Regions from separate parts of the Homo sapiens genome. Here regions 1, 3 and 4 are each linked to region 2. Evidence: fine-mapped expression QTL. A gene starts in region 2. Each other region holds a variant in brackets. All regions are shown on one strand. Distances are between the middles of the regions.

Region 1 (8,107 bases), 120 kb before region 2:
TTCTTTATACTGTACAGACACATGCCCATGGCCACCCCCACCAGAGTTTCCCCAACCTTCAGCCCCTCTCTGGCATCCCCAGAAGTAAAAGTTTATTTTTGGGGGATTTTTTTGAGACATAGTCTAGCTCTGCCACCCAGGCTGGAGTGCAGGAACACAATCATGGCTCACTGCAGCCTCCGCCTCCCAGGTTCAAGTGATTCTTGTGCCTCAGCCTCCCAAGTAGCTGGGATTACAGCCATGTACCACTACACTCGGCTAATTTTTTTTTTTTGAGACGGAGTCTTGCTGTGTCCCCCAGGCTGGAGGGCAGTAGCATGATCTCAGCTCAGTGCAAGCTCTGCCTCCCAGGTTCAGGCCATTCTCCTGCCTCAGCCTCCCGAGTAGCTGGGACTACAGGTGCCCACCACCACAGCTGGCTAATTTTTTGTATTTTTTTTTTTTTAGTAGAGACGGGGTTTCACTGTGTTAGCCAGGATGGTCTCGATCTCCATACTTCCTGATCCACCCACCTCAGCATCCCAAAGTGCTGGGATTCCAGGCTTGAGCCACCATGCCTGGCCTGTATTTTTTTTTTTTAGTAGAGACGGGGTTTCACCATGTTGGCCAGGCTGGTCTTGAATTTCTGGTCTCAAGTGATCCACCAGCCTTGGCCTCTGAAAGTGAGGAGATTATAGGGGTGAGCCACCACACCCAGCGCCTACAAATAAAATTATTTCACAAGATGAAGAGGGTATAACGGCCCATGATTCCCTTGGGAATATGCAATGGTTTGTTTCCATAACTCTGCTGGTAGGGATGGAATTGAAACCCACCACAAAATATAACAACCTGGAACCCTGCCTTATCACCTTGATAAAACGGGCTGTTAGGCTAGGATACATTATTCAAGAGAGCAGAGTGGGAATGAGATTTGTACTCACACCTTTTAAGGTTGTCCCACTTTCACAAGATGTCAAAGTGACACATCATATTGGGCCTTCAATTCTGGCCTTATACCAAAATGTGGATAAGCATCCAGACTATGCTTGACAAATACAAATAGCATCCAATATTAACACAGAATTTCCATGGTTTACAATAGCAGTGGTAATCCCAAATCATCCTGTGAACGTCTCCTGGAATGACTCCATAGCCACACAGAACCACATATGGCTTCAGATAGCCATGGCCCTATTTCACTTTTGTGCTGCACCAGCTGAGACCTCAGCTGTAGCAACCCTCCTCTGTCCACCTAATGCCGTTTAAAGCCCAGCCCCTGGATTTGTGAACCAAACCACATCTACTATCACAGATGAGCATATTTTTCACTGCCCATATGCACCAGGCTGAATGAAACTCCCCAGGCACTCCCAAAGTCATCTCAAAATGTTTATGAGTCCAGACAGTGATAAATAGTTACAACTGGCCAGGCACAGTGGCTCACGCCTGCAATTCCAGCACTTTGAGGCCGAGGCAGGCAGATCACCCGGTCAGGAGTTCAAGACTAGCCTGGTCAGCATGGTGAAACCCTGTCTCTACCGAAAATACAAAAATTAGCCTGCTGTGGTGGCAGGTGCCTGTAATACTAGCTACTTGGGAGGCTGAGGCAGGAGAATTGCTTGAACCCAGGAGGTGGAGGTTGCAGTGAGCCGAGATGGCACCATTGCACTCCAGCTTGGGCAACAAGAGCGAAACTCCATCTGAAAAAAAAAAAAAAACAAAAAAGTTACAACTTTGGCACCAACTCAGGCCTAAGTGTCATCTTCCCTGAATTACTCCTGTGCTTCTGCATGCATCTATCTCTTCTCTATTATCTCTTTGGATGTCTATGTCCCCTTCCAAACTCTACTGTATTAAATGTCCTGTTATGATGGTCACTCACACCCTCTCAGGTGTTTAGGAAGCCCAATAACATCAATTGAGGACGTAAGTAAGAGATCCAGTCCTCAGCCTGTAATCACACCTTTCTGCCCCCTGAAAAGATTTACCACCATAATCTGAAGCATGTCCTCCTAAATGGACCCATAACTAATCATAGTTCACTCATTAGCTTTCATATATTGGATGTCTCCAGTATCAACACCCTCCCAGATACCCCATCCAGTATGTCTAGTTATCGATTTGATGCCACCACTTATTGGTCTCTGATTCTTCATATGGCCAAAACAACCCTCTGGATATCCACAGTGAATATTATGTCAATACCAACGTCATCTCAGCTGAAGCAGTGTGCATGGTTACAGCTGCTAAGATCAAAAACCTTGGGCTCATGCCCGATTCCTCTTTCATGCTCCTATCATCCACATTAGAAAATCTAGCTGTCTGCAAGGCATGGTGGCTCGTGCCTATAATCCCAGCACTTGGGGAGGCAGAGGCCAGCGAATCTCCTGAGGTCAGGAGTTTGAGACTAGCCTGGCCAACATGGTGAAACCCCGACTTTACTAAAAATAGAAAAATTAGCCGAGTGTGGTGGTACATGCCTGTAATCCCAGCTACTCAGGAGGCTGAGGCAGGAGAATCACTTGAGCCCAGGAGGTGAAGGTTGCAGTGGGCTGAGATTGTGCCACTAGACTCCAGGCTGGACAAGAGAGTGAAACTCCGTCTCAAAAAAAAAAAAAAAAAAAAAAAAAAAAAAGCCTAGCTGTCTCGGCTGGGCGCATTGGTCCATGCCTATAATCCCAGCACTTTGGGAGGCCGAGATGTGACGATCACTTGAGGTCAGGAGTTCGAGACCAGCCTGGCCAACATGGTAAAACCTCGTCTCTACTAAAAATACAAAAATTAGCTGGGCATGATGGTGGGTGCCTGTAATGCCAGCTACCTTGAATGCTGAGGCAGGAGAATTGCTTGAACCTGGGAGGCAGAGGCTCCAGTGAGCCCAAGATTGCGCCATTGCACTCCAGCCTGGGCAACAAGACTGAAATTCCACGTTAAGAAAAAAAAAAGAAAACCTAGCTGTCTCTTTACAAAAAGTGAATCCTGAATCCAGACCCATGTGATTTACCACTTATCTGATCCATTAACCCTCACCTGGATTATGGCAGGAGCCTTATCTCTGACCTTTCTTCCTCTTCCCTCAACCCACAGTCTATGCAACAAGGTCCAGCCAGATGAAGCCTGTAGCCAGGTAGAACTGTGGTAATATCACCTCCTGACTTTGATCCGTTTTATCTCTAAGCATTTCACAACCTGGTAGCAAATCCTGGGTTAATCTTACAAGGGTGTTTACATTGGTTGACAGAAATGGGAATACCTCCATATAACCTGTCATGGACTTGGTATCCTGGCTTCAGAGATTCTCCAGGGTCCTCGGATCAAAGGACTGAAAAAAATGGCACTTAAGAGTCCCAGGACACCACAAGCTAGAGAACCTGTAGATGGCGTCAGGACCAATGAGGGAATGGAACACCCTCCACTTCCCTGTGTGGGTTCCCTAAGTGCTTCTGCAGCCAGGAGTGCCTGAGGGGAAAGGCAGACATTACAAACATGTCACAGGATTTGATAAGCTCAGGACTCCCTGAACCCTTTCTTGTCCCTGGAACCAGGTAACCCTAAGGCTGGTTGTCTGACCTGCTTTTCTCAGTGCAAAATGTCATCTCTACCATCTATGTGATCTACAAAACGGATTCAACCTCCCAAGGCCCCAAAGTCCTCATCCTCTCTCTCTATGATGTTCTTCCTTTGATTGGCCTTTGGGAAACTTCTTAAAAGCCTGGATTTGGATCATGTCCCTCCTTTCTTCAAAACTCTCCATGGCTTCTAGAATCCTCATGATGAATGCACAGCCCCTGGCCTGCTTGCTCTACCAGGAAGAGCTCCATCTCACACGTTGTTCCTGACAGATGCCTGTGAACCCCAGGTTCCATCCTTCCAGCTCTGTCCATCTGCAGGCCATTGCCTGCACCCCTACCTGTGCCTGTCACTCTCCCCACTGCATCCCACTGGTGTCAGAAACAGGTGAAACCGACTTTGCAAAATTATAACTGACGAAATTATGACAGTGAAAGAAATCAGACCTAACCGACTCCATCTTGCTTCCAACCTTTCAGCCGTCTTTTTTCATTCCTGGGCATAGGCTGAATTAACTTTGGAAAAGAATTCAGTTCATGGTTTCACTCTGAAACAAAATTGATAATAGCCCTTTCCTGAAAAGACCCCTTTCTTGCCTGGGGACCAGCCTGTCTTTGCAGGACTAACAAATTAGCTACAAGAATAGAAATTACGGTTTAGGGGTCATGCAGCTTCTGGCTCCAAGAGTCTGAACCTCCCCAAGTTGCTCCTGAAGATAACCTTACTATTGTAAAACCTAATGTGAGTTTCTGGGGTGCTAGTTGAGTTGGTCTCCCCTGTGTGAGACACCCATGGGAAGCCATGGGCGGCCTCTGAGGAGAAAAGTCTCCTTATTGCCTTCATGTCTTTATGCCCCGAGAGCATAACTCTTCAGCAGCATTCC[A/G]TGGGTTGCTCAGGGAGATCACACTCCCTTGAAGCAGTGGAGCATAATCAAACATCTTGGCTCCTCCTGAAACCCGCAGCCACCCGTTTCAGTTAAGTTAAAGATCTTAAGTAGTTTAGACACACGCCTTTGTTCAAGGAAATTCACAGAAACGGCCAGTGCTTTACATCTTATGGAATGACTCACGAGTTCTCCTTTACTGATTAATCCTTTTCCTGATCGCTTCCTCCCCCTCCAATCAGCCATAAGAACAAAGAGCTTGTAAACCAATAAACTGGGTGGAGCCCAAGAGCTCTGGGCCGCCAGGAAGCCTCCAATGCTCTGGCCACCTGGACCCGCCTTTTAAATGCGTATTCTGTCTCTTTCTAACTCCTTTGTCTCCGCAGGACTCGGGGTATCTGCTGGGTGGTGTGGGGCTGGTTTCCCCAATATCTAAGATCAGTGCTTGGGGCATTTTGCAGATCCTGCACTGGATGGATCAGCGGACAACACACAGACCGGTAATCTGGGTCAATCAGTTCTGCCATCCCACCCAGAACAGAAAACAGCATGAAAAACTCACTTTAACCCCCTATGAATCCATCTCCAACCAGACTGATCAGCACTCCCCACTTCCCAAGCCCCTACCCGCCAAATTTTGAAAACTCTGATCCCAGAATGCTCAGGGAGACTGATTTGAATAATAAAACTCCTGTCTCCCGAACAGCAGGACGGCTCTGCGTGAATTACTATTTCTCCATCGCAATTCCCCAGTCTTCATAAATCGGCTCTGTCTAGGCAGCTGGCAACGTGAACCCACTGGACGGTTACAAGGAGAGGCCTCCTGTGAGCGCCTCAGTGTTCCTACGCCGGGTACCGGCTACAGACCCACGAGCAGGAGCCGCTCCCTCGCTGGTTTAGGACCTGGGTGACGATGGGGTGACCTGAGGGCACAGAAGGCACCACAATTACCTGAGTTGGGCGCCTCGGCACAGCCGCTGCCATCGGACTACTTGGGGAAGCACGGCCCGGGAGCAGTGGTCGCCGTCACGGGGCTGCAGAGCCGCCTCTGGGCACCGAGGACGATTCCTCTCCACCTTCTAGGTTCAGTCACCGCGGTCCCACCCAGCACTCAGGGGCCACAAACTGGGGAAACACCCGCATCGCCGATACACAGCCGCTACTAGAGACCCCGGAAGTCTCGGCCTTACGTTACGTGCACACGTGGAAATGCCTTCTTTCCGAGTGCTCACTGGCTCTGACCGGCTGTCGTTTAAAGCAGAGCTTTCTGGGTAATGTAGTTCCCCACTTTCCATGACACAACATGGTTACCAGGTTCTGAAATGTTCATGGCTCAGATGCACCTCCAAGCCTTTGTACCTATTGGTTCCTCTACCTGTATTACTCTAGCTGGGGTGAAGCCTGTAATACACAGCATTTACCTGAGCTAGGTCCCTCAGTGTGGCTGCTGCCATCAACTGTGGGTGGAGCAGGCATCACCCCAGCCAGTGCCTATGAGCCTCAGACCTGCCACTTGGGAGCAGAGATGACTACTCCTCTTGTGCCTTCTCAGTCCCAACCCAGTACTCCCTGGCCTGACAAGCATGCCCAGAAATCCCTCATCCTGGGCCTTGCAACTAGCGCCTTCTGGGTAAAGTACTTCCCAGAGCTCTCAGCCAACAATGGTGGTATCCTCCAAGAGCAAACCGAATGCAGACCATGTTACATTCTGAGGGCTGCTGGAAAGCCCTGCTCACACCTCAAAGGAGGAAGATTATTGATTCTTTGTAAAAGCATCAAATAGGTATCACATCAGACTCTAGGAAGCTCATCCTGCACCCAGAGAATAAAAATACTATTTGAGATGCTCCCAAACTTTACTTATCTAAGTGGCCATATCATTGGCATCATTCAGACTTACAATGTGTGCACTCAGAGCTGAGAACATTAAGTATTGATTGCTCTTTAAATTCACGTAGACTGAATCATTACAGTCAGTTTTGCGAGTTTCATTGTTTTGTTGGGAACAAAAGAAAATTCTCCATAAGACATGATGACAGGATGGGTACAAAAAACAGTGAGCAAAAATGAATAAGACCTAATATTTGCTACCATAACAGGGTGGCTATAGTCAAAATAATTTAATTATATATTTAAAAATAACTAAAAGAGTATAACTGGACTGTTTATAATACAGAGGATAAATGTTGAGGTGACTGAGACCCCATTTACCCTATGTGATTATCACATATGGCATGGCTACATCAAAATATCTAATGTAATCTACAAATATATACACTACTATATACCCACAAAAAATAAAAATAAAGGCCAGACATGGTGGCTCACACCTGTAATCCCAGCACTTTGGGAGGCCAAGGCAGGTGGATCACCTGAGGTCGGGAGTTCGAGACCAGCCTGGCCAACATGGAGAAACCGTGTCTCTACTGAAAGTACAAAATTTTCCAGGCATGGTGCTGCATGCCTCCAATTCCAGCTACTCGGGAGGCTGAGGTAGGAGAATTACTTGAACCCTGGAGGTGGAGGTTGCGATGAGTCGAGATCATGCCATTGCACTCCAGCCTGGGCAACAGGAGTGAGACTCTGTCTCAAAAAAAATAAAAAATAAAAAATAAATAAATTGCTGGGTGCAGTGGCTCATGCCTATAATCCCAACACTTTGGGAGGCTGAGTCAGGTGGATCATGAGGTCAGGAGTTCGAGACCAGCCTGACCAATATGGTGAAACCCCATCTCTAATAAAAATAAAAAAATTAGCCGGGCACGGTTGCTCACGCCTGTAATCCCAGCACTTTGGGAGGCCGAGGTGGACAGATCATGAAGTCAGGAGATCAAGACCATCCTGGCTAACACAGCAAAACCCATGTTAAAAAAATTGCTGGGCATGGTGGCAGACACCTGTAGTCCCAGCTACTCGGGAGGCTGAGGCAGGAGAATCGCCTGAACTCTGGAGGCAGAGGTTGCAATGAGCTGAGATCGCATGACTGCACTCCAGCCTGGCGACAGAGCTAGACTCCGTCTCAAAAAAATAAAATAATAATAAAGATCTAATGACAGGGAAATAGACGGATGTTGGTACACCCTGAAGCAGGTAGTGAAGCTGGCAGTTGGCCACTGGTTCCCACAGAAAATTGCTCTAGTGATGCTAGCAAATCCCAAAATTGGGGCTCAATCCAGGAGGGTTCCTGGCTTCATAAAGGAAATAATTCAAGAGCAAGCCAAGAGTGTAAAGTGAAGGCAAAGCAAGTTTATGAGAGCAAGAGAACAGGAAAATGGCTGCTCCACAGACAGAGCAGGGCTACTCCACAGGCAAAGTAGCACCCGTGGATTGTTGGCTAGCTATATTTATAGCTACTCCTTAATTATGTGCTAAATAAGAGGTGGGTTATTCATGAATTTTCTAGAAAAAGAGTGGGGAGTTCCCAGAACCAGGGGTTCCTTCTCTTTTAAACTACATGAGGTAGCTTCTGGGCATTGCCATAGCATTTGTAAACGGCCATGGTGCTGGTGGGAGTGTCTTTTAGCATGCTAATACATTATAATGAGCATATAATGAGCAGTGAGGCAATGAGGGTAACTAGAGTTCATATTCTTGCCATCTTAGTTTTACTGCTTTCAGCTGGTTTCTTTAGTGCATCCTGTTTTGACCAGATCCTGTTTCATCATGAGCAGG
Region 2 (8,107 bases):
AATTCTCTTTTTTTGTTGCATCTCTGCCAGGCTTTGGTATCAGGATGATGCTGGCCTCATAAAATGAGTTAGGGAGGATTCCCTCTTTTTCTATTGATTGGAATAGTTTCAGAAGGAATGGCACCAGCTCCTCCTTGTACCTCTGGTAGAATTCGGCTGTGAATCCATCTGGTCCTGGACTTTTTTTGGTTGGTAAGCTATTAATTATTGCCTCAATTTCAGAGCCTGGTCTATTCAGAGATTCAACTTCTTCCTGGTTTAGTCTTGGGAGAGTGTATGTGTCGAGGAATTTGTCCATTTCTTCTAGATTTTCTAGTTTATTTGCGTAGAGGTGTTTATAGTATTCTCTGATGGTAGTTTGTATTTCTGTGGGATGGGTGCTGTTATCCCCTTTGTCTTTTTTTATTGCATCTATTTGATTCTTCTCTCTTTTCTTCTTTATTAGTCGTGCTAGTGGTCTATCAATTTTGTTGATCTTTTCAAAAAACCAGCTCCTGGATTCATTGATTTTTTGAAGGGTTTTTTGTGTCTCTATTTCCTTCAGTTCTGCTCTGATCTTAGTTATTTCTTGCCTTCTGCTAGCTTTTGAATGTGTTTGCTCTTGCTTCTCTAGTTCTTTTAATTGGATGTTAGGGTGTCAATTTTAGATCTTTCCTGCTTTCTCTGGTGGGCATTTAGTGCTATAAATTTCCCTCTACACACTGCTTTGGACGTGTCCCAGGATTGTGGTATGTTGTGTCTTTGTTATCGTTGGTTTCAAAGAACATCTTTATTTCTGCCTTCATTTCGTTATGTACCTAGTAGTCATTCAGGAGCAGGTTGTTCAGTTTCCATGTAGTTAAGTGGTTTTGAATGAGTTTCTTAATCCTGAGTTCTAGTTTGATTGCACTGTGGTCTGAGAGACAGTTTGTTATAATTTCTGTTCTTTTACATTTGCGGAGGAGTGCTTTACTTCCAACTATGTGGTCAATTTTGGAATAGGTGTAGTGTGGTGCTGAAAAAAAATGTATATTCTGTTGATTTGGGGTGGAGAGTTCTGTAGATGTCTATTAGGTCCGCTTGGTGCAGAGCTGAGTTCAATTCCTCGATATCCTTGTTAACTTTCTGTCTTGTTGATCCGTCTAATGTTGACAGTGGGGTGTTAAAGTCTCCCATTATTATTGTGTGGGAGTTTAAGTCTCTTTGTAGGTCACTAAGGACTCGCTTTATGAATCTGGGTGCTCCCGTATTGGGTGCATATATATTTAGGATAGTTAGTTCTTCTTGTTGAATTGATCCCTTTACCATTATGTAATGGCCTTCTTTGTCTCTTTTGATCTTTGTTGGTTTAAAGTCTGTTTTATCCGAGAGTAGTATTGCAACCCCTGCCTTTTTTTGTTTTCCATTTGCTTGGTAGATCTTCCTCCATCCCTTTATTTTGAGCCTATGTGTGTCTCTGCATGTGAGATGGGTTTCCTGAATACAGCACACAGATGGGTCTTGACTGTTTATCCAATTTGCCAGTCTGTGCCTTTTAATTGGAGCATTGAGCCCATTTACATTTAAGGTTAGTATTGTTATGTGTGAATTTGATCCTGTCATTATGATGTTAGCTGGTTATTTTGCTCATTAGTTGATGCAGTTTCTTCCTAGCCTTGATGGTCTTTACAATTTGGCATGTTTTTGCAGTGGCTGGTACCAGTTGTTCCTTTCCATGTTTAGTGCTTCCTTCAGGAGCTCTTTTAGGGCAGGCCTGGTGGTGACAAAATCTCTCAGCATTTGCTTGTCTGTAAAGTATTTTATTTCTCCTTCACTTATGAAGCTTAGTTTGGCTGGATATGAAATTCCGGGTTGAAAATTCTTTTCTTTAAGACTGTTGCCTTCTTTAGAATATTTATTTAGGGTATTGTGACAAAGTCAAAAGGTGATGCAGGACAAAAATCATTATATGCAGGACATGTCCTGTATGTATAGGAATCTTGGAAATTTTATTAGTGATGTCTTTCATGCTACTAACACATTTGAAAAACACCTACTGAGAGCTCGTATGTGTTCCTTGGATGTGTATTTTAACAGTGAATTATCAAGACAGCACAACTTCACTGTTGATTTTTACCATTCTGATATCTTCTTTACAATTGCTCAGCATTTTCAGGAAAAAAGAGTCACATTTTGTTGACAAAGTGTGGTCAAGATCACAACACAACCATATGCTTAACTTCATTCTTTCACTTATACTTTAGTATTCAGGCTCAAACTTTACTGAGATCTTAACTTTGTCCATCTATCACAGATATTTCCTTAGAGCAATTTCTTTCATTATCTTCAAATAACTACGGAATCATTATTAATAGCTGTCAGGATTTTTCCCCCGGGGATAATCTCACCTCCTAACACAGACACCATACTTACAATGACAATGACAGGTTAAATGGTAATTGCACTGTGTTTTGCTGTGATGGAGACATCACTGATTACCCAGGCAGGAAGAGTTTTCTGAAGAAATCTGTCCACTGGTTTCAGGGAGACTCCACATCATCCCTCTTCCTTCTTCCACTCCAAGGCCTTGTTTGGAATATTTTCTCTTCCGTCTCTGACCAAACTGAAGCTCACAAAAGTTACTGTAAAGCTTGAGTGCACACATATTTAAAAAGCAACAAGGTAATAGTTATTAGCTTCTAGCTGTGAGTGTACGCAAAGAGACATTGTGGTGTGGTGTATCTATTTAGTTTTGCAGCTTTGGGGAACATCTGAAATGTCTCAACATTTCTGCGATCGGTGCATACTACACTCCAGGGAATCTAGGTCCAGGCCTTTTAAGAGGACAGAAGTCAGCCGGGCACCATGGCTCACTCCTGTAATCCCAGCACTTTGGGAGGCCGAAGCAGGCAAATCACAAAGTCAGGAGTTCGAGACCAGCCTGGCCAACATGGTGAAATCCCGTACTCTGCTAAAAGTACTAAAATTAGCCTGGCGTGGTGGCGGGCCCCTGTAGTCCCAATTACTTGGGAGGCTGAGGCAGGAGAATCGCTTGAACCCGGGAGGCGGAGGTTGCAGTCAGCCGAGATCGCGCCACTGCACTGCAGCCTGGGAGACAGAGCGAGACTCTGTCTCAAAAAAAAAAAAAAAAAAAAAAAAGAGGACGGAAGTCCTGTCAGCCCTTTGAAACTCGGGTTACTTTTCCCAAACAACTTGGCCCTCCTACTTCGAGTTTTCCCAAGAGCCCAGGCCGAGAATCCCCTGCCTTGAAGGATAGCTCAGTGGGAACCACACTCTACCCACAAACCTATACGTTGCATACCCAATGAGGGCCCAGGAGAGGGGTGTTTCAGTGCCTGCGGGGGGTGCGTGGGCGGGACTTCCGGCTCCTCCTTGTAGCGGACATTTTGTTTCTGTCAGGCTGTCCCTGGCCGGGGTTCTGTAACGCTTGTGTGGGCCGCAGGTGGAGGTGTTGGGAAAGCGCGGAGGAGATGTTGTCCCCAGTGTCCCGAGACGCGTCTGATGCTCTGCAGGGACGGAAGTGCCTGCGTCCCCGATCGAGACGCCTGCCGCTCCCGGCAGCTGTCCGCGCCCACGGTCCTATGGCGGAGCTAACGGACTCCGCGCGGGTGGGTGCTGCGTCCTCCGGGCCCTCAGTCACCCTTTCTCCGACTCCGAATCGTAAAGTGCCTGCAGCCCCTGTGTCCCAGGACAGCGACGCACTCTTGGGGCGGGGTCCTATCTCGGTGTGGGTGGGTGTGGGAGAGTTACGGGCGGAGGGGACGGCGCAGGTAAAGGCTCGGGGGTGCTGCTGACCCCCAAACATTTGGGAGACAGGGTTCTCATCAACACAGAGCAGAGTTTGAGGAACTGTGACTGGAATGGCAGGCTGAGAAGTTGTCGCTTCATTCTGAGGGCGTTGAGATTAACTGAGGGTTTTGAATAGAAGGACGTGATCTTAGCTGGGATTTTAAGTGTCTCGAAATTTGCTCAGGGGAGAACATTAGTTTGGGGTGGGGACTGCGAGGATGGATACGAGGAGACCGGTAAGGAGGCTACTGCAGTGGATTCCAGGAATGCTTTGGTGGTGGATGTACCAAGAGTAATGGCAGGTGAGTGGGTAGAAGTGATCATATTCTGGGTAGGTTTTAAATTTGAAACCAACAGGATTTTCTGCTCCATCATATGCAGCTATGACTGAAAGTAAGGCATGAAAGAGCAAGGTGTTTTTGTTGTTTTTCCATGAACGTTTGGATTTTGGAATGGTGACTTTGAGATGTCTCAGAGTGGAGGCTTCCTCACTTAGGCAACTAGAGAGGAAGGTCTGAAGTTGTGGGGAAGGGGCTGGGCTTAGAATATCTTTGGGGTGAAGGGAGCGGTCTGGAGTAGGTCAAGGCCAGGAGGTCAGATTTAAGTGGGGCAGTCTTAAGTATGTTATTTCATATCTCTGGGGTAAGAGATGAGAAGGCTGGGACTGCAGGGCAGGGAAGAGGGAGTGGGCATTCTTGAGACTCCCCCCAGAAGAGAAGGGTCCTGCCATTTGAAAGGGTTCTTTTCAGTGTTTGCAGGAGGAGAGAGCTGTAGGGTATGAGGAGTTTGGCCTGGGATGGCAACGATGGGTGGTGTGCTATTGCTACTATCTGATTATCTCACCCTCATTTTGTGTGTTTTCTTTTAGTTTTAGTTTATTTATTTTTTTTATTTTTTTTGAGACGAAGTCTCACTCTGTCGCCCAGGGTGGGATGCAGTGGCTTATTGCAACCTCTACCTCCCGGGTTCAAGAGATTCTCCCGCCTCAGCCTCCCAAGTAGTTGAGATTACAGGTGCCCACAACCACCCCTGGCTAATTTTAGTATTTATAGTAGAGACGGGGGTGGGGAGGTGGGAGGGGTGGGGTGGGGTGGGGAGGTGGGAGGGGTGGGGTGGGGGCGGGGGAGTGGGGGGGACGTTCACCGTGTTGGCCCAGGTGGTCTTGAACTCCCGACCTCAACTGATCCACCGGCCCCAGCCTTCCAAAGTGTTTGGATTACAGTTGTGAGCCACTGCACTTGGCTTTGGTTTTATTTTATTTATTTATTTTTTTTTTGGAGACGAGTCTCGCTCTGTCACCCAGGCTGGAGTGCAATGGTGCGATCTTGGCTCACTGCAGCTTCTGCCTCCCAGATTCAAGTGATTCTCCTGCCTCAGTTTTCCCAGTAGCTGGGATTACAGGCATGCATCACCATGCCCAGCTAATTTTTGTATTTTATTAGATAGAGTTTCACCATGTTGGCCAGGCTGGTCTCAAACTCGTGACCTCAGTTGATCCACTCCCTTCGGCCTCCCAAAGTGCTGGGATTACAAGAGTGAGCCACCATGCCTTGGCCAGGTTTTGTTTTGTTTTGTTTTTTTGAGATGGAGTCTTGCTCTTGTCACCCAGGCTGGAGTGCAGTGGCGCGATCTCGGCTCACTGCAACCTGTCTCCTGGGTTCAAGCAGTTCTCCTACCTCAGCCTCCCGAGTAGCTGGGATTACAGGTGCCCACCACCACACCCCGCTAATTTTTCCATTTTTAGTAGAGACGGGGTTTCACCACGTTTCCTAGGCTGGAGTGCAGTGGCACAATCTCGGCTCACCGCAACCTCTGCCTTCTGGGTTCAAGCAATTCTCTTGTCTGCCTCCTGAGTAGCTGGAATTACAGGCACCCGCCACCACGCCCAGCTAATTTGTTTGTATTTTTGGTAGAGACGGGGTTTCACGATGTTGGCCAGGCTGGTCTCGAACTCCTGCCCTCAGGAGATCCACCCGCCTCGGCCTCCCAAAGTGCTGGGATTACAGGTGTGAGTCATCATGCTTGGCTGAGACCCCATTTCAAAAAAAAAAAAAAGTTCACTACTTCTCCCAGTCTTGCCTAGTGTAGTAGAAGGATCTCACGAATCCATCTGGCCAAAGATTTAAGGTGCTTCTCTAATCTTTGTGTTTGTCCAGAATGCTGTCTCTGTTTTTGGTAACTCTCTGGAACTTAGGATGTACTACATTCTGTCATTATCCTAAGGCCAGAAGGTAGGAACCAGACTCTTTTGATGTAGCTGGAATGTGTTGAGGGTGTTGAATGTGTTCCAGTTTCTTCCGTTTTCATGATGCAGCTGAGCATGGGTATTTATCTCCTGCTGCCTGCATTAAGTTAGTTAGAGATCTGTGTCAAATGCCTAAAGTCGGCCAGGCGCAGTGGCTCACACCTGTAATCCCAGCACTTTGGGAGGCCGAGGCGGGTGGATCACGAGGTCAGGAGATCAAGACCATCCTGGCTAACATGGTGAAACCTTGTCTCTACTGAAAATACAAAAAATTAGCCGGGCATGGTGGTGGGCGCCTGTAGTCCCGGCTACTCGGGAGGCTGAGGCAGGAGAATGGTGTGAACCTGGGAGATGGAGCTTGCAGTGAGCCAAGATCGTGCCACTGCACTCCAGCCTGGGCAACAGTGCAAGAATCTGTCTAAAAAAAAAAAAAAAAATTGTTATGTGTCTTCTGACTGCCTCACTGACCAGCTGATCCCCATCCTTCTCCCTCTCTTTAAGCGTTCCTATTCCCTGACACACAGCAATATTGAAATCAGGTCAGTTAATAACCCTACAGTGGCCTCTAAGAGTTCAAGTTAAAGGAGTAGTTACACATCTCTCACTTTAAATCAGGGGTGTCCAATCTTTTGGCTTCCCTGGGCCTCCAGCACTAGGGGTTGCATTTCAACATGAGATTTGTAGGGGATACACATCCAATCCATATCAAACAGTGGTACAATGTGCAACAAAGAAATGGAAGAGGGTTGAGGATACCTGAGATCTGCATGTGGTTTGAGGTGCCTGTGATTGAAAAAAGGAACAGGGCCAGATTGGGAGGCTTTCAGAGCAACAATAGGGCTTTCCTTGGCAATGGGGCCATTGATGGTTTGGAGCAAGATGGGATACTGATTGTTGGCAAGCACTTTTTTTTTTTTTTTTTGAGATGGAGTCTCACTCTGTCGCCAGACTGGAGTGTAGTAGCATGATCTCAGCTCACTGCAACCTCTGCCTCCCAGGTTCAAGCAGTTCTCCTTCCTCAGCCTCCCAAGTAGCTGGGACTACAGGCACACACCACCATGCCCAGCTAATTTTTGTATTTTTTTTTTTTTTTTTTTTAGTAGAGACGGGGTTTCACCATGTTGGCCAGGATAGTCTCGCTCTCTTGACCTCGTGATCTGCCTTCGGCAAGCACTCTTAATGCTATGTGTAGAGTGACATTTGGGGAGTCCAGGGAGATGGGGTGGGCCAGTAGGGTGGGGGGGAAGCTGGAGATGTGAGGGAGACATAGTCCAGAGTGATGTGTATGAGAGGAGGGAGTGTGAGCTGACGGTCCTGTGACTTGGGGCTTAACTGAGAAAAATGAGCCTAGGTTCATACCTGGGATTTGTGATCTTGGGTACCCCAGGGGAGTTGGCTGGCTCAGAGTGTAAATGGCATTTATCTGTCAGCCTGTCTGTTGTTGTGGTGGGCTGACACAGTGATTGCTGGGGTGATCAGGAGAGAGTGAGGATCAGTGGTACTAGTGCCTGGTATCTCTGACTTGGGAACCTGGGAGGTTAGTTAGCAGGATGTTGTGGGTAGGTAGACTGGGGATCATTGGTCAAGAGACTTTTTATGGTCCTTCCTGTCCCTTTTGTTGCAGGGCTGTGTGGTCTTTGAGGATGTGTTTGTATACTTCTCTCGGGAAGAATGGGAGCTTCTTGATGATGCTCAGAGACTTTTGTACCATGATGTGATGCTGGAGAACTTTGCACTTTTAGCCTCACTGGGTAAGGTCCTCATGCTTTTCTGCCTTTACCACTCTGTTCTTCCTATGGTGGGATCATGAGCACCGCTTCCTTCACCAGTTTCCTGGAGTAGGTGCTCAAGATGCCAGGGCTAAGCTGTATGGAGTGTCCTCCCTACTTGCTGAGTAGTCCTGAAGCCGTGCAGCCAAGGGTTTGGGGTCATGAGACTTGTGGTTTGCCCAGTGGATCTCACTAGGTCTGTTCGCTTTCTGTACTGGTGACTCTGTCCAAAATTATGATGCCTCTGTGCCCAAGGTTCTGTCCCTTTCTCCAGGTGACATTTTCTTTTCTTTTTTTTTTTGAGTCAGGGTCTGGCTCTGTTGCC
Region 3 (8,107 bases), 23 kb before region 2:
TTTTCATATGCCCCAAACCCATTCAATTTCTGATTGTGTTGTGTTCCCTGGTGTAAGATATCTCCCAGGAGAGGGCCACACATTCCCCAGAGGTGGACCTTCTTGGTACATACACCTGTCCAATGTGTCCTGAGTGGGGACTCCTGTTGTATAGAAAGGGTCTGCTTAGAAGGTGTCTCGTCTTTTGCTCCATACCAACAACCTAAAAGAAATAAAATGCTGGTAAAATGCAAGGTACTTCCGAAGGGAAGTATTACTAAGCCATACCTGATCAACAGCTGCTTTGTTGTACTTATATTTACTTGGGCCTAGACATATCCTTTTATATAGCACCCACATGCTTTATGAAGGTCCTTTAGATGTTTGCACAGGAAGGAATTGCCTCTGCTTCCTGTAGTGCATGTATTGTTGGCTCCTTCACATCATGTGGCCCCCTACATTCTGTAATCATTCTAACCCAGTAATATGAAGAAGACTTATCTTCAACCTAAAGGCAACATTCTGTTTCTGCAATTATTTCCATGGAGTAATACCTCTGTTAGATACACTTGTTTGTGTGTCACAGGAAAATACGAGTACAACAAAGATACACTTGTTTGTGTGTCACAAGAAAATACGAGTACAACAAAGCAGCTGTTGGTCAGGTATGGCTTAGCAATGTGTACACACTTCCTAATACAAAATTGATATGCCAGTATTGGAGTCCACTGCAGATGGAAATGTGAGAAAAATGGGTCCAGGTGGGATCCAGAGATGTGAAGATTAGTCCTGGGCTGGCATCAGAGGAGAAGTGACAGGGTATAGAACGGTGAAGTCTGAAACTCTCAAGAATGGGGAAGACAGAAACAGCATATGGCTCGTCATGTTGCCAGGTAAATACTTGTGAAATCAGAGAGCTTCTAGCATGACTTTCCTAAATCCCTAATGTTATGTCTTCCTCCAGGGTGTTACTCCTCAGAGGTGGCCTCCCTCTGGGCCCATCATGCTGAGCCTGGGTTTAGCTGCAACTTCTGGATCACTGAGAACTCTCAGTCCCACTGCAAAGATATACATGGAATTTACATGAGACATGGATGACATAAAGAATAAGAGAAAGACAAGAGAGAAGAATAGCCAACCAACAGTTCAGAAAAAATCAGCACATGATAGCCCATAGGAAAGAAAACTAAATACTACAAAGATAATTTTTGGCCAGGTGCAGTGGCTCACACCTATAATCCCAGCACTGTGGGAGGCCAAACTGGAAGGACTACTTGACCCTAGGAGTTCAAGACCAACCTGGGTAACATAATGAGACACCATCTCTACAAAACAAACAAATGAGGCCGGGCACGGTGGCTCACGCCTGTAATCCCAGCTCCGGGAGCCCGAGGCGGGTGGATCACAAGGTCAGGAGATCGAGACCATCCTGGCTAACACGGTGAAACCCCGTCTCTACTAAAAATACAAAAAAATTAGCCAGGTGTGGCAGCATGTGCCTGTGGTCCCAGCTACTCGGGAGGCTGAGGCAGGAGAATGGTGTGAACCTGGGAAGCGGAGGTTGCAGTGAGCCGAGATTGGGCCACTGCACTCCAGCCTGGTGGCAGAGCAAGACTCCGTCTCAAAAAAAAAAAAAAAAAAAAAACAAAACCAAAAATACAAATGAACAAAAATTAGTTGGGCAGGGTGGCATGCTCCTGTAGTCCCAGCTACTTAGGAGTCAGGTGGGAGGATTACTTGAGCCCAGAAGGCTGAGAATGAAGTGAACCATGATTGCATCAGTAGACTGCAGCCTGGATGACAGTGAAACCCTGTCTGAAAAAAAAAAAAACAAAAAAGCAAAAAATACTCAGGGCACACTGGCTCATGCTTGTAATCCCAGCACTTTGGGAGGATGAGGTGGGAGGATCACGTGAGGTTGGGAGTCAGAGACCAGCCTGGGCAATACAGCCAGACCTCATCTCTATTAAAAATAAAAATAAAAATTAGTGGGATGTGATGGCAGAAGCCTCTAGTCCGAGTTACTCTAGAGGCTGAGGAAGGAGGATTGCTTGAGCCTGGGAGATTGAGGCTACAGTGAGCTATGACTGCAGCACTGCACTCCAGCCTGGGTGACAGAGTTAAGACTTTGAAAACAAAACAGAACAAAACAAAACAAACAAGATAATTTATAAGGAGGGTCTTGCAAGAACAACCTATGGTGCATGTAAGTATTGAGAACATCAGTGATGGGAGGAATTCCTAGCACAGGCAGTCATGAATAAATGTCACCTAGAGCAAGGAAGTAGAACCTGTGCATACCAGTCTCTGATCTAGAAAAATTACTCAACAGCCAGAGGGCAAGCAAGGTGGGATGCATTATGGTGCCTGTAAAGCTCCTTCTCTGGGAGCTTGCAGCAAAGCAGGTGTTGGGGCTGCTCAAGGAGAGAGAGGGCAGTGCACACACCTCAGTCCTACATACCACATAGAACCTACCCAGGGAACTAACAGAGGAACCTGTGCCCAGGCTCCTGAAGTGAGGAAAACAGTCTTGCCATGGGGAAAAAAGATGGGGACAGACAGACAATAGCTGAGGTCATAGAGAAGAGTGTGAGTGCCTTACCTAGAGAAGATATAAGTGTCAGGTTCTCCAGCATCACGTCATGATAAAGGCATCTCTGAGCCTCACTAAGGAGACTCCATTCCTCCTGGGAAAAGTTCACAGCCACATCTTCAAAGGTCACAGTGCCCTGCCGTGATGATGACAGATGAAACCACAAACACTCCATATGCTCATCCACTTATCCACCCTTGCCCTTCCTCCTCCCAAGGTCCTAAACTACAAGGAGAAACTAGGCCCACTGGTGTCACTATCTTCTCATGGGCTCACTGGTCATGGTGTACAGCCATCAGCCACAAGAAGTGGGTGAAACAATAGATTTCTATGTTTTGGTGCTGATATAAAGCGGTCCATAACTTCCTGATAGCCAATGCCCCTGGTAGAGATGAAGTCATGTAAATCCCAATGCAGCATCCTCAGTCTATCAGACATACTCCTTCTCTAAATACACATCATTCCTTTTTTTTGCTTTTTTTTTTTTTGAGATAGGGTTTCACTCCTGTTGCCCAGGCTGGAGTGCAATGACATAATCTCAGCTCTCTGCAACCTCTGTCTACTGGGCTCGAGTAATTCTCTGGCCTTAGCCTCCCGAGTAGATGGGATACAGGTGCATGCCACCGTGCCGGCTAATTTTTTTTTTTTTTTGTATTTTTGGTAGAGAGAAGGTTTCACTATGTTGCCCAGGTTAGTCTCGAAATCCTGAGCTCAAGTGATTCACCCACCTCAGCCTCCCAATGTGCTGGGATTACAGGCATGAGCCACTGTGCTAGGCCAAAATACACATCATTCTTTAGACTGCACAGACACATGCCCATGGCCACCCCCACTAAACTGCCTCCCACATTGGCCTCTGCCTCCCCACAAGTTAAAGTATGTTTATACCCTCTTCTTCCTTCTACCAGTAAGGGTGAGATTTTCACCTTACAGTTATATTAATGACCAAACACATGACATCAAACACTAGACAGGTGCTATAAATATGTTTAAAAATCAAATACACTCAAAGTCTAGAAGAGGACATCCCTCATCATGAAGGACCACATAGGGGTTGCACTATGGATAA[G/C]AGTGCATAACCAGAAACTATGATATGCAAGCTTTTAAAATGAAGAGGGTGTGATGACCCCCGAATCCCTTAGGAGGATGCAACTGGCTTGTTTGAATAACACTGTGGGTAAGGATAAAATTGAAACTCACTACAAAGTATAATAACCAGGAATTCTGCCTGGTCTCCCTAATAAAAGGATTATTAGGCCATGCTGATTATTATCTAAAAGAGCCTAGTGGGAAGGGAATTGGTTCTCAGGTCATTTGAGGTCATACCAATATCACTAGATGTCAAGGTGACACATCATATTGGGCCTCCATTTTTGGCTTTATACCACAATATGGCTGACAGCATCCAATATGCTTCACATATTCAAACAGGATCCAATAATAACACAAAATGACCATGGTTCCCATTAGCAGTGGTAGTCCCTAATAATTCTATGAATGCCTCCTTGCATTACTCCACATCCATGCAAAACCACATGTAACTTCAGATATCCATGGTCTTATTCCACTTCTGTGCTACAATGGCTTACCCTTCAGCAACACGGACCAACTTCCATTCACCTAATACCATTGCCATTTAAAGAGCAGTCCTGGATGGGCATGGTGGTTCACACCTGTAATCCTAGCACTTTGGGAGGCTGAGGCAGGTGGATCATGAGGTCAGGAGTTCGAGACCAGCCTGGCCAATATGGTGAAATCACATCTCTACTAAAAATACAAAAAAAAATTAGTGGGGCGTGGTGGCACGCAACTGTATTCTCAGCTACCGGGAGGCTGAGGCAGGAGAATCACTTGAACCTGGGAGGTGGAGGTTGTAATGAGCCAAGATTGCGCCACTATACACCAGTACACCAGCCTGGGCGACAGAGTGAGACACCGTCTCAAAAAAAAAAAAAGTCCTGTTTTTAATCCATTTAAGGCCCAAGACCTACTGTCACAGATGACCATATTTCTCCCTGAGCATATTCAGCACGTGTAATGAAACCCCCCACACACTACCAAAGTCATCTCAAATCTTGATTGCACAGAGTGGTGAATAAGTACCACTCTGGCCTAAGTGTCATCTTCCCTCAATTTGACTACACTTCTGCATATATCTATTTCATGTCTATTCTCTCCTTGAAAGTCTATGTCCCCTGTCAAATTATGCTGACAGGTATACCCTACCATCATGGTCACTTACCTACCTCTCCAGTGTTTAGGAAGCCCAGTAACATTACCCAGGGACCCAAGCAACAGATGCAGTCCTCATCATTCAACCACTGCTTTCTGGTCCCCTAAAAGATTTACCACCAGAATCTGAAGTGTGTTCTCCTTAATGTGACCCATGGCTCACTCACCATAGCATACACATTAGCTACCATATATTAGATGTCTCCAGTGTCAATCCCTTTCCAGATACCCCAACCTGCATGTCCATAGCCATTTGATGCCTACACTTATTCGTCTCTGACTCTTCATATGGCCATAACAGTCATCCTGATATTTGCATAATATTCTAATTATGTTTATTACCAACATGCTCATCTCAGCTGATGCAGCTTCCATAGCTACAGCTACTAAGACCAAAAACCTCGGGATCCTGATTGCTCTCTTCATGCCCTTACTTTGTGTATTAGGAAACCTAGATGCTGTAACAAAATATCAACTTTGAATCCAGCCACATCTCCTTAGCCATGAATCTTAGTCTGTTAACCCTCACTTGGATTACGGCAAAAGCCTCAACTCTCATCTTATTTCCTCCTCTCTCAACCCCACAGTCTGTTCTCCACTGTACAGCCAGAGGAGACTACAGCCAGATGAAACTGTGGCAACATCACCTCCTCCCTCTGGTCAGTTTCACCTCTAAGCATTTCACATCCTGGTACTAACTCCTGGGTTAACCTTCCAAGTATGTTTATACTGGTTGACAGAAATGGGAATACCTCCATATATCCTGTGTCACAGACTTTGGATCCTGGGTTTAAGGTTCCTCCAGGGTTCCCATATCAAAAAACTTAAAAAAAAAAAAAAAAAGGTACCTAAGAATCCCAGGACATCCCAATCTAAAGAGCATGTGGATAGGAGTTAGGGCCAGTGAGGGAATAACACCCTCCGCTTCCCTGCGGAGGTTCTGCAAGTGCTTCTGCAGCCAGGAGTTCCTGAGAGGAGAGGCACAAGCTACAAGAATGTATCCCTGATGAGATTTGATAAGCTCAGGCCTCCCTGAACTCTTTCTTGGCCCTGTAACTAGGTAAACGCGAGTTGGTTGTCTGAACTGAGCGCCTCAGTACAAAATGTCATCTCTTAGCACCTATCTGATCTGTAGAGGTTGAACAAGAATTCAACCTCCCAGGGCCCAAAAGTCATCCCCTGTGTTCTTTTTCGACTGGACTTTGGGAAACCTTTAAAGCCTGGACATTGATCTTTTCCTTCCTTTGTTGGAAGCTGTCCATGGCTTCCAGCGTTCTCAGGGTGAATACACGGTCCTCAGCCTGCTCTTCCAGGAGGAGCTCTGCCTCACACTTTGCTCCCGACAGGTGCCTGTGGACCCTAGGTTACGATCCTCTCGGCTCAGTTCATCTCCAGGCCTTTGCCTGCACCGCTCCCTGTGCCTGTAGCTCTCCTGAGCGCATCCCGCGGGTGTCAAAAACGGGGGCCCATAGAGAGCGCCTCAGTGTCCCGACGCCGGGTTCAGGGTGTAAAACCTTGAGCAGGCGCCGCTTCCTCTCTGCTTTTGGACTTAGGTAAAGATGAGGTGACCTGAGGGCACGGAAGACGCCACAATTACCTGAGCCGGGGGCCTCAGCGCGGCCGCCGCCATCCGACTGGGTGGGGAAAGCGGGGTCGAAAGGAGGGGGCGAGCAGTGCAGGTACCCGGGCACGGTGGTCCCGATCCCGGCCTTGGTGCGGGTCACGCCTAGCGCCTTTAAGGAGCTGCAGAGCAGCCTCTGTGCAGTCGGGACAACGTCTCGTCTCCACCTTCTGGGTTCAGTCACTTCTACACGACCCAACACTCCGCGGTCTCTCACTGGAAAATACACCCAACACCAATCAAAATGGCCACTAGTAGAGGACGCCGGAAGTCCCACCTTTATACTGTTTCCGCGGAAACGCCTTTATTTTGAGCCCTCATTGGCTCTGACGCGCTGTCATTCGACGCAGAGATTTCTGGGTTATGTAGTTTCCTCAGGTTCCAAGACAGTTCCAAGGCGGTAAAGAAGGCCTTCTCAGAGGCGCTTGATTGCACAGAGTGGTGAATAAACACTACTCTGGCCTAAGTGTCATCTTCCCTCAATTTGACTATACTTCTGCATGTATCTATTTCATGTCTATTTTCTCCTTGAAAGTCTATATCCCCTGTCAAACTATGCTGTCAGGTATACCCTACCATCACGTTCACTTACTTGCAGGAAAGGCCCAGCTCCATCTCAGCGGCCTGTCCTTAAAGTGCATGTCCTTCTAGGGTAGAGGATAGTCTCACCTAGCCTTAGAACCCGTATTGAGATTTTTGGAGATTAGTGTCTGTAACTGATCACTCAAGTATTTGAAAAAATATTATTTTAGATTTTGGGGAACTCGAGCTCTCCGATGCTAAACTTATTATTTAGGATGCCCCCAAAGACTAAAAATCCAAATTATCATAACGTTTTGAACAGTCTTTCAGTCGCAAAATCCCGGTACTGGCAGCAGAGGCTGATAAACATTATTGTGTTATAAATTCACATGAATGCACTCTGAGGCATTAGAGTCAGTTTCTCAGTCTGTCAGGGACAAGAGAGAACTAATCCAGATAGGACAAGACAAGGAAGATAGAGGAGAAATGTTGTGTTCCCTAAAGCAGGAATACATGCTGAATCTCTGTCTGTGATTCCCACAGAAGACAACTCTCCTGCCTATAAAATCAATCATAGTGTCCAGTACATTGAGCAACACTTTTATCCACTTAGTATCCCTCGCTTGAGATTCCAACTTATATTCAATTAATTCTGGATTAATTTATCTAAGATTTATCAATCTTACAGGAAGACCAATGAAAGAAATGCTATTTTGGTAGTGATAAATGGCTGCAGTTTTCAAAGGTGGGGCACGTATGCAGAAGATGCTCTCCACCTGTTGATATTGGTTGTGTCTTAAATCCAGGAGTTCATGTTATTGCTGGGAAGTGGCTATTTTTTTTTTTTTGTATTAGATAAAACAGACTTTATTTATTTCTTTTCTTTTTTTTTTTTTGTGACTATTCTTTATTTCTGTTTCCATGGCAAGGAGTGTTTTGCCTAATAAATTAATGTTATGGATGGGATTACAGGCATGAGCCACCATACCTGGCTAATTTTGTATTTTTAGTAGAGACGGGGTTTCTCCATGTTGGTCAGGCTGGTCTCGAACTCTCAACCTCAGGTGATCCACCTGTCTCGGCCTCCCAAAGTGCTGGGATTAAAGGCATGAGCCACTGTACCCAGCCGCTCAGTTCTTAAAAAACCTATGTCTTCTATG
Region 4 (8,091 bases), 29 kb after region 2:
GGAGAAAGTCCTTGAGTACACAGTGAATGTCAGAAAGCTTCAGCTGAAGGCCATATCTCATTGAGTGCCACACAGTTCACAAGGGAAAGACACTTTTGATATGTAGGGATGTCCAGTTGATATAACAGCTCTGAAGGAGATCCCTTATGAGGGTGGCATCAGCCTGAATTGAACATCCTATATCTGAACATCTGCATAAATTCCAGGTATGTGTGAACTGCATTGCACCTTTTGCCCTGCCCAGGGCCCATGTCAGATTTATGTCTCTGCTGATACTATAGTGGAAGCCATTTTACCTCTACTGCCTGGCAGGTGACCACCAGTGTGCACCACTCACCCATCCCAGTGTATTCAGGTAAGTGAACCTTGGTGTTCTGTTCATGGGAGGAATTTGTAAATAGCCTAAGCATTTATTCCGTTTTTTTTTTTTCCTTTCTGATGAGTTAGGCCATGGACCTGACCCAGTTTGGCCCAGAGGACTCTGCTGGTGACCTGAAAAGAGGGACTACATATTTCAGGATATTGTTGGTCTCACATGACTCTTGATAGAGTTTGCCAGCCTTCAAATCACCAACTGTGGGAACCAACTGCCTCTTATTGCCTTGGTTTGTACAATAACAAAGGCCTTATTAATCTTGGGGGTTCTATATGTATGGGTTGGTTTGAAAACAGTTGGGTTCTGCTAACATGAAGGGGTGAATAACTTTTTTTGGAGATCCCAAACATTGTGTAGCTCAACAGGGACAGGGACAGGGACAGTAGGATGGCAGAATATAGCTCTCTCTCTAGTTTGAGCCTAGTTTTCATTGCTATTCAAGGCCTCTGAGAAAAAACTACAGGGTATTGTCCTAATTTATATCCTGGATGCCATAGAGGTCAGCCTGAGGAGGCAGCAGTTACTTGACATCCTTTGATGTTTCTGAAAGCAACATGAAATTGTTCTCTTGTTCACAAGGAATACTGCATCGTGTTCAGTGCCAGTGGGGGAAATCTGTTCCCCAGGTCCTGTATGCCTTGATATCCTGAATTCCACAGGGTAGCACCACAGGTGGTAAGATTATAGTAGGAATTATAATTGTTATAGAAGTACTGGATTGATAGAGAGTGGAAAACTGCAATAACACTGCAATAAATAGAATGTGCCCCTTTTACAGAGGTTTCCATGATGTTCGTTATTATGGCTCTTAAGGATGAGCAGGTACAGAAATCCTCAGGACCTACAGAATTGTGTATCTTGTGTAGCTGAGGTCATTGTCAGAAATTTTATGGAATCCTGTAGCCTCTGGGATTTTCACCTCAAGGTCATTGCTATGCAGGCAGGAAAACAAGGATAGAGAAGGGAGGTCTAGGCCATTGATACAGCCTTTGTGATCCAGCCAACATTTCTGTTGAGTCAGGTGGAAATGGCCTTCACTGTTCACTTGTATTTGTGATCACTGAGGCAAAATCCTCTCCCAGGACATGAGGAGAGAGATGGTGGAATCAACATAGGGTTGTCAAACCTGATTTTCCAAAAACAATAGGAAATTCAGACTTTTATTTTGAACCATATTTTGTTAGGTTGGTGCAAAAGTAACTGTGGTTTTGAACCATGATTTATTTTTATTTTTATTTTTTTTTGAGTCAGAGTCTTGCTCTGTTGCCCAGTCTGGAGGGCAATGGCACTATCTCAGCTCATTGCAACCTCCGCCTCCCAGGTTCAAGCGATTCTTCTGCCTCAGCCTCCCAGGTAGCTGGGATTACAGGCACCCGCCACCACGCCCATCTGAGTTTTGCATTTTTAGTAGACATGGGGTTTCACCATGTTGGCCAGGCTGGTCTTGAACTCCTGACTTCATGTGATCCACCCACCTTGGCCTCCCAAAGTGCTGGGATTTACAGGCATGAGCCACTGCGCCCAGCCAAGCTTTTTCACCATTCCAATTTCCTTCAAATGCTGAACAGCCGTGGAATGGTTGACATTGAGTTCTTAGGCAACTTCTCATGTAGTTGTAAGAGGATCAGCTTCTAATATTGCTCTCAATTGGTCATTGTCAACTTCCAGTGGCTGGCCACTACTTCTCTTCAAGGCTCTTGTCTCCTTTGCAAAACTTCTTGAACCACCACTGCACTGTACATTCGTTAGCAGTTCCTGGGCCAAATGTGTTTATATCGTGAGTTGTCTCTGCTGCTTTACGACCCATTGGGAACTCAAGTAAGAAAATCTCAGCCGGGTGCGGTGGCTCACGCCTGTAATCCCAGCACTTTGGGAGGCTGAAGTAGGTGGATCACAAGGTCAGGAGTTAGAGACCAGCCTGACCAACATATTGAAACCTCATCTCTACTAAAAATACAAAAATTAGCCGGGCGTGGTGGCATGTGCCTGTAGTCCCAGCTACTTGGGAGGCTGAGGCAGGAGAATCACTTGAACCCGGGAGGCAGAAGTCACAGTGAGCCAAGATCACGCCACTGCACTCCAGCCTGGACGACAGACAAAACAAGACTCCGTCTCAAAAAAAAGAGGCCAGATGCGGTGGCTTACACCTGTAATCCCAGCACTTTGGGAGGCCGAGGTGGGTGGATCACAGGTCACGAGTTCGAGACCAGCCTGGCCAACATGGTGAAACCCCGTCTCTACTAAAAATACAAAAATTAGCTGGGCATAGTGGCATGCACCTGTAATCCCAGCTACTGGGGAGCCTGAGGCACGAGAATTGTTTGAACCCCGGGAGGTGGAGGTTGCAGTGAGCCAAGATCATGTCACTGCACTCCAGCCTGGGCAACAGAGCAAGACTCTATCTCAAAAAAATCGCTGAAATTTGAGTTTTGTCTAACATTTCCATAGTCTAAAATAAACATAAACAGCAAGTAGTAAGTCAGCAAAAAAACATAAAGCGAGAAATGCCTATTAAAATGATGTATAACCACATTTATTTAAGAATGTTTTCCAATATAAAATGGCAAAATCCAACATGCAAAAACGGCAATTACTTTTGCACTAACCTGATAATAATTTTAATAAGAATAAATGGTACATATTTAAACTATATAATTTGATCAGCTTTGATATTCATATTAACCTGTAATTGCTCCCACCATGCCAATTTTGAAACTGCCAACATGTTACTGAATGTAGAATTGGGAAGAGTTGCTGATAGCATCCTAATATATTCTGTTTCTACCATACTGATACAGTGGCCACGAATAACCTCAAGAATGTAGAAAATAAAATGTAGTGAAATGATTAGGAAGAAGTTGTTTCTTCACAATCATGACAATGAACGTGTCATTCCACAAGTTACCTCATTGTCCTTTAATAATTATCTGCCTATAGGCAACTATTGATTTACTTTCCATTATAATACATTAGTTTTCATTTGCTAGAATTTTATATGATTGAAACCATAATGTATTTACTCTTTTTTAATCCCTGGGTATAGTCACGTATTTATTTTGAGATTCATCATTATACCTCTATGAGTAGTTTCTTTTTTTTGTATTGCTGAGAAGTATGATGTTCTGTGGATATACCAGTATTCGTTTATTCATTCATTCATTTGTTATGGATATTTTGAGTAGTTTTTTAAAGTAGTTTGAGGTATAATGGAACTTAAAGTGCTTATATTTAAAATGCATATTTTGATATTTTCATACATGCTTACACCCTGGAACGCAGTTTCCTTCTGTCTTTTTAGTTCATTCTCAACATATAAAATTAATTTTCATTGTGTAAAATTACTGGTACAATGACATATTTTGTCTCCTGTTACAGCTGTGTTCAATTACAAAAAAAGATGGAAAAGACTGTTATGAAGCCAGATGAACCTTTCTCCAGTCTTCCTTCACTATTTTTTTTTCCTTCACCATTTATCATTTCATAGTCATTTATGTTTCAT[C/T]GGTCCTCATGTGTACTAGTGCGTTATTTTACTTATACTCCCGGATATCATATTATTTAATGCATAGCCTCTTCAGAATGCAATTTTAAAATGTAAAGGCTCTTTTATAACCCCCCAAAAAATCACACAAATATATTTTAAAATGTAAATATTTTATCGCTTCTGTTTTCTCAGTTGTCTAAAACAATGTGTTTCTTAAGGAAGATCATTTTTATTCAGGATCCAAATGTATATTTAATAGCTTTCAGTAGTTGTATCTCATAAGTCTGTAACCTACAGGTTCCATTTACCTTTGTTTTCTTATTTCTTGAAGTTGCTGAGTCATTTTTTAATTAGAATTTGCTGTATTCTAGATGTGGCTTATTGAATCTCTAACATTGTTTAACTTGTACACTAGATGTTGATGAAATCGGTGATTGAGATTTTGTCCCAGCAGACAGGTGTGTGATGGCAACAGTGAAATAAATACAAAACCTTCTCCCAACCCAGAAATCCTCTCCACGAAGGTAGAGACAGAAAACGCTTTTATTAAGCATTAAACCAGAATGTGATGCACATCACAGACAATCCACTAAGAAATTGCAAGGTAAGAAAAAAGCCTCACTCCTTCATATGGCCTAGCAGATGTAGCCCATTACACACGTTTTCAAGATAAACAACAACAAGTCCTCAAATACGAATTTGACAGCACCATTTGTCACACATAGTTCATCCTAACAGGTGATGCTCTATTACCTTACTGGCTTTACCTAGAGGAAAAGCAAACATCATATCTTTATGACAGAGGATAATGAGGGGAGCTGCCTTGGGGCTGCTGGATGATACATCGGGACAGGACAGTGCGAGCTTCCAGCAAGGCAGCTCTAGTTGGAGCCCTGATTTCTTTCCAAGGTGAGGAGAGGGTGATGATAGTATCCTTGGGAAGGGGAGTGAAAAGTGCTGAGGGACTGTATTTATAGCTGAGGGATTTCCTGGGTGCTGTGGGTCTCTTGTCTTTGCCACTCTGCCTCAACACTGAAACTGTCCATTCCCTACTTGGAGGCTGCACCCAAAACCTCCCTCTGCCTTCATGCTCTGGCCTCCCCCTGCAAGTTACCACCCTGGGTCTTGGTGCTTGCAGCACTTCCGGTGCCTGGCTGCCCCAGGCCCTCTGCTCCCTCTGCTGCCTGGGTTTAATCCCTCCTCTGCCACTGCCCAGCATCAGGACTCTGCTGGTTTTGCAGCCTCTTGGTACCTCAGTTTTATGTTTGTGGAATAGGAGTGCTCACAGTACTCTCTGGGATCCTGGCAAAAGGTGTGGTAGGCAGGTGGTAAGCAGGGCCGAGCACTATCCCCAGCACCTAGTGAGTTGATGCCTTATCATTTACCTGATCCAGGCAGGTCTTAAGGTACAAGAGAAAGAGAAATGGGGCTTCTTAGAACCCCCTGACCCCACAGCTTCTACTTGGATGGAATTTTTGGAAGAAGCACTGGCTGCAGAGTCCAGAGATCTCAGTGTGAATTTCTGAAGGACTCCTTCCCAAGGAAGTGACCTTGAGAAAGTCCCCAACAACCCCTGTCAAGGACTTGACTAACAGCTTCTCTAATGTTTGTCTCCCTTTCCAATTTAAGAACAAATGGATGAAATCAAGTATGTGTCCCTAACCAATGACAGAGTAGGCCCTACTTGTAGTTAGCCTGCCTTCGGCTTCCTCAGACCCACAGACTCCAATTAGCACACCTAAAGCCTTCCCTTTTTTCTACTCTGAAGAATTCCAGCTGGGCGGCGCGGTGGCTCACACCAGGGACAGGGGCTGAGTGGGCTGGGGCGGGGCTGGGTTAGTGACTAGAGACCCTCTTTGAACCTCAGTGGTTGATTAGAATAAAACGAAGGGAAAAAGAGGCTGGGCTCGGTGGCTAACGCCTGTAATCCCAGCACTTTGGGAAGCCAAGGCAGGCGGATCACCTGAGGTCAGGAGTTTTGAGACCAGCCTGAACAACATGGAGAAACCCCATCTCTACTAAAATACAAAATTAGTCAGGTGTGGTGGCACATGCCTGTGATCCCAGCTACTCAGGAGGCTGAGGCAGGAGAATTGCTTGAACCTGGGAGGTGGAGGTTGCAGTGAGCTGAGATAGTGCCACTGCACTCCAGCCTGGGCAACAAGAAACTCCGTCTCCAAAAGGAAAAAAAAAAAAAAAAAAGGAATTCCGGCTGGGCACAGTGGCTCACATCTGTAATCTCAGCACTTTGGGAGGCCAAGGAGGGTAGATCACTTGAGGCCTGAAGTTTCAGACCAGCCTGGCCAACATGGCGAAACCCTGTCTCAACTAAAAATACAAAAATTAGCCAGGCATCGTGGTGTTCGCCTGTAGTGCCAACTGCTCAGGAGGCTGAGACGAGAATGGTTTGCACATTTCCCTGGATGCTGACAATCAAGACTACTACTTTCTTTTCTTTCTTTTTCTTTTTCTTTTTTTTTTTTGAGATGGAGTCTCCCTCTGTCACCCAGGCTGGAGTGCAATGGCACAATTTCGGCTCACTGCAACCTCCGCCTCCCGGGTTTAAGCAATTCTCCTGCCTCAGCCTCCAGAGTAGCTGAGATTACAGGCGTGCACCACCACGCCCAGCTAATTTTTGTAGTTTTAGTAGAGATGGGGTTTCACCATGTTGGTCAGGCTGGTCTTGAACTCCCAACCTCAGGTGATCTACCCACCTCGGCCTCCCAAAGTGCTGGGATTACAGGCGTGAGTCACCGCGCCTGGCCAAGACTACTGTTTTCATGTGGAGCTAATATTGACCCACTTCCTAAGGATTACCTCCTTACTTATTCCTTCTTCCCCCCAAAAAGAGTAGAGAGGAATGATCATTCCTGTCTCTTAATGTATCTGCAGTTCAGAGAGGGCAAGCAACATCCATACACGACCACAGCTGCCAAGGGTGGGAAAATATTTTAAATAGCCCATTTTCAAGGCATGATAAATCTAAGTACTGGCAGCCAGCCTGCAAATGTAACAAACCACACAGCTCATGCATCTAGAAGGTCACAATAGGTACACAGAATGTAGAGGAGGGGTCAGGCCATGAAAGGGAAGAATGTTTCATTATTGGAAATCAAAACTTAAGCAGGGAAGGGGACCGGGGTTTAACGTTATAAGGGGGATAATGAAACTTAGACGACATCTGGGAAGACTGTAACCTCATAGTACTGGACCAATGAGTATCTTGGAGGAGGGACTTGCAAGCAAGGAGATAAATTACCTGTTGTGACTACCCTAGATATGCCTGCCTACACCAGTCCCCTGATCTTGCAAGACTGTTACTGAAAGTCTCACTTTCGCTGTTCTTCGTGTCTTTTAGTCCATTCTTTGGGTTTGGATGGGTGAGTGTGTTTCTCACACAAGCAGCTGAGGTCTACGCTGAACTGGGTTGGCTTGCCTTGGTCCCTTTACTCCTCTGACTGGAAATGCAGGAGACTCTGGACAGATTCCTCTCTGCCAAGTCTGCTAAGCCCAGAACATGAGTAACCACACTGGGACACTGCCACCTGGGGCCTCAAGTCCTTCTCCACAAACTTGCTTCCCATGGTCAGCATTGCCACTGCCTGAACACCTCCAACAGGGTCCCTGGTGTCACTCCAAACACATCGCTCTCTCACAACCCCATGCAATGATTCATTCCTGGGGTCCTTTCGGTCTTCCATCTAAACACCACCATAGGATGCTTCCTCCACACCATACTGAACTGTCACTCAGTTATCAGTCACTACTGCAGACATTGGGAGAGAAGATGAAGAACTGAGAATGTCCAGCGTGACCATCGCGCGTCTCTGTACCCATGGCTTTTGCCTCCCAACCCCTGTAGCAGGTGTCCTTAGTCCCAACTGCTCCTCCCCAGCCCTGTGTAAAATCAATGACAGACAATGAGTACTAATCCCCTAGAGTGTTCCTTCTCCCACCTGTACTTGACCAATTACTTCTGAAACTGGCTGAATCTGGCTGAGCCCTCCTATAAAGCCCATAAACATCCTATTCTCCTGCTTAGGTCAAACCTGCTCACACGTGTATTTCCAGGTTGTGCTGGGGTATGAACCAGTTCCCTCATCAGTACATCATCTAGTATGCAGTGATGTGTGTAGGGAGTAGTAGTATCACATCAGGTTGTGCCTGCCTCATCACAATTGCCCCACAAAGATAGTGCAATTGTGTTTGTGGCCCACACATCAGATTTTTTTTT

What was found.
Region 1: its variant is fine-mapped to the expression of ZNF671 in whole blood (TOPMed, PIP above 0.99).
Region 3: its variant is fine-mapped to the expression of ZNF671 in whole blood (TOPMed, PIP above 0.99).
Region 4: its variant is fine-mapped to the expression of ZNF671 in whole blood (INTERVAL, PIP above 0.99).

What each region holds. Positions count from the first base shown.
Region 1 is chr19:57,847,351-57,855,457 of GRCh38, reverse strand. It overlaps ZNF587 (zinc finger protein 587), which reads right to left and starts at 5,599. Exons shown (of 3, transcript NM_032828.4): 1 at 5,387-5,599. The coding sequence starts at 5,419. It overlaps LOC124904782 (a long non-coding RNA gene), which reads left to right. Exons shown (of 2, transcript XR_007067358.1): 2 at 4,897-5,143. RefSeq lists enhancers at 3,958-5,157, 5,212-5,301, 5,352-5,591, 5,762-5,821, 5,892-6,001. The variant A/G (reference allele first, on the strand shown) is at 4,436.
Region 2 is chr19:57,722,871-57,730,977 of GRCh38, reverse strand. It overlaps ZNF671 (zinc finger protein 671), which reads left to right and starts at 3,354. Exons shown (of 4, transcript NM_024833.3): 1 at 3,354-3,587; 2 at 7,638-7,764. The coding sequence starts at 3,450. RefSeq lists enhancers at 3,008-3,057, 3,198-3,637, 3,155-3,655 and a silencer at 2,976-3,201.
Region 3 is chr19:57,745,386-57,753,492 of GRCh38, reverse strand. It overlaps ZNF776 (zinc finger protein 776), which reads right to left and starts at 6,678. Exons shown (of 3, transcript NM_173632.4): 1 at 6,402-6,678; 2 at 2,582-2,708; 3 at 1-202. The coding sequence starts at 6,434. RefSeq lists an enhancer at 6,617-6,666. The variant G/C (reference allele first, on the strand shown) is at 3,642.
Region 4 is chr19:57,693,502-57,701,592 of GRCh38, reverse strand. ZNF154 (zinc finger protein 154) reads left to right here. Exons shown (of 3, transcript NM_001085384.3): 3 at 1-5,318. Among named protein-coding and RNA genes, the nearest start is that of ZNF154, 12 kb to the left of the region's middle. The variant C/T (reference allele first, on the strand shown) is at 3,876.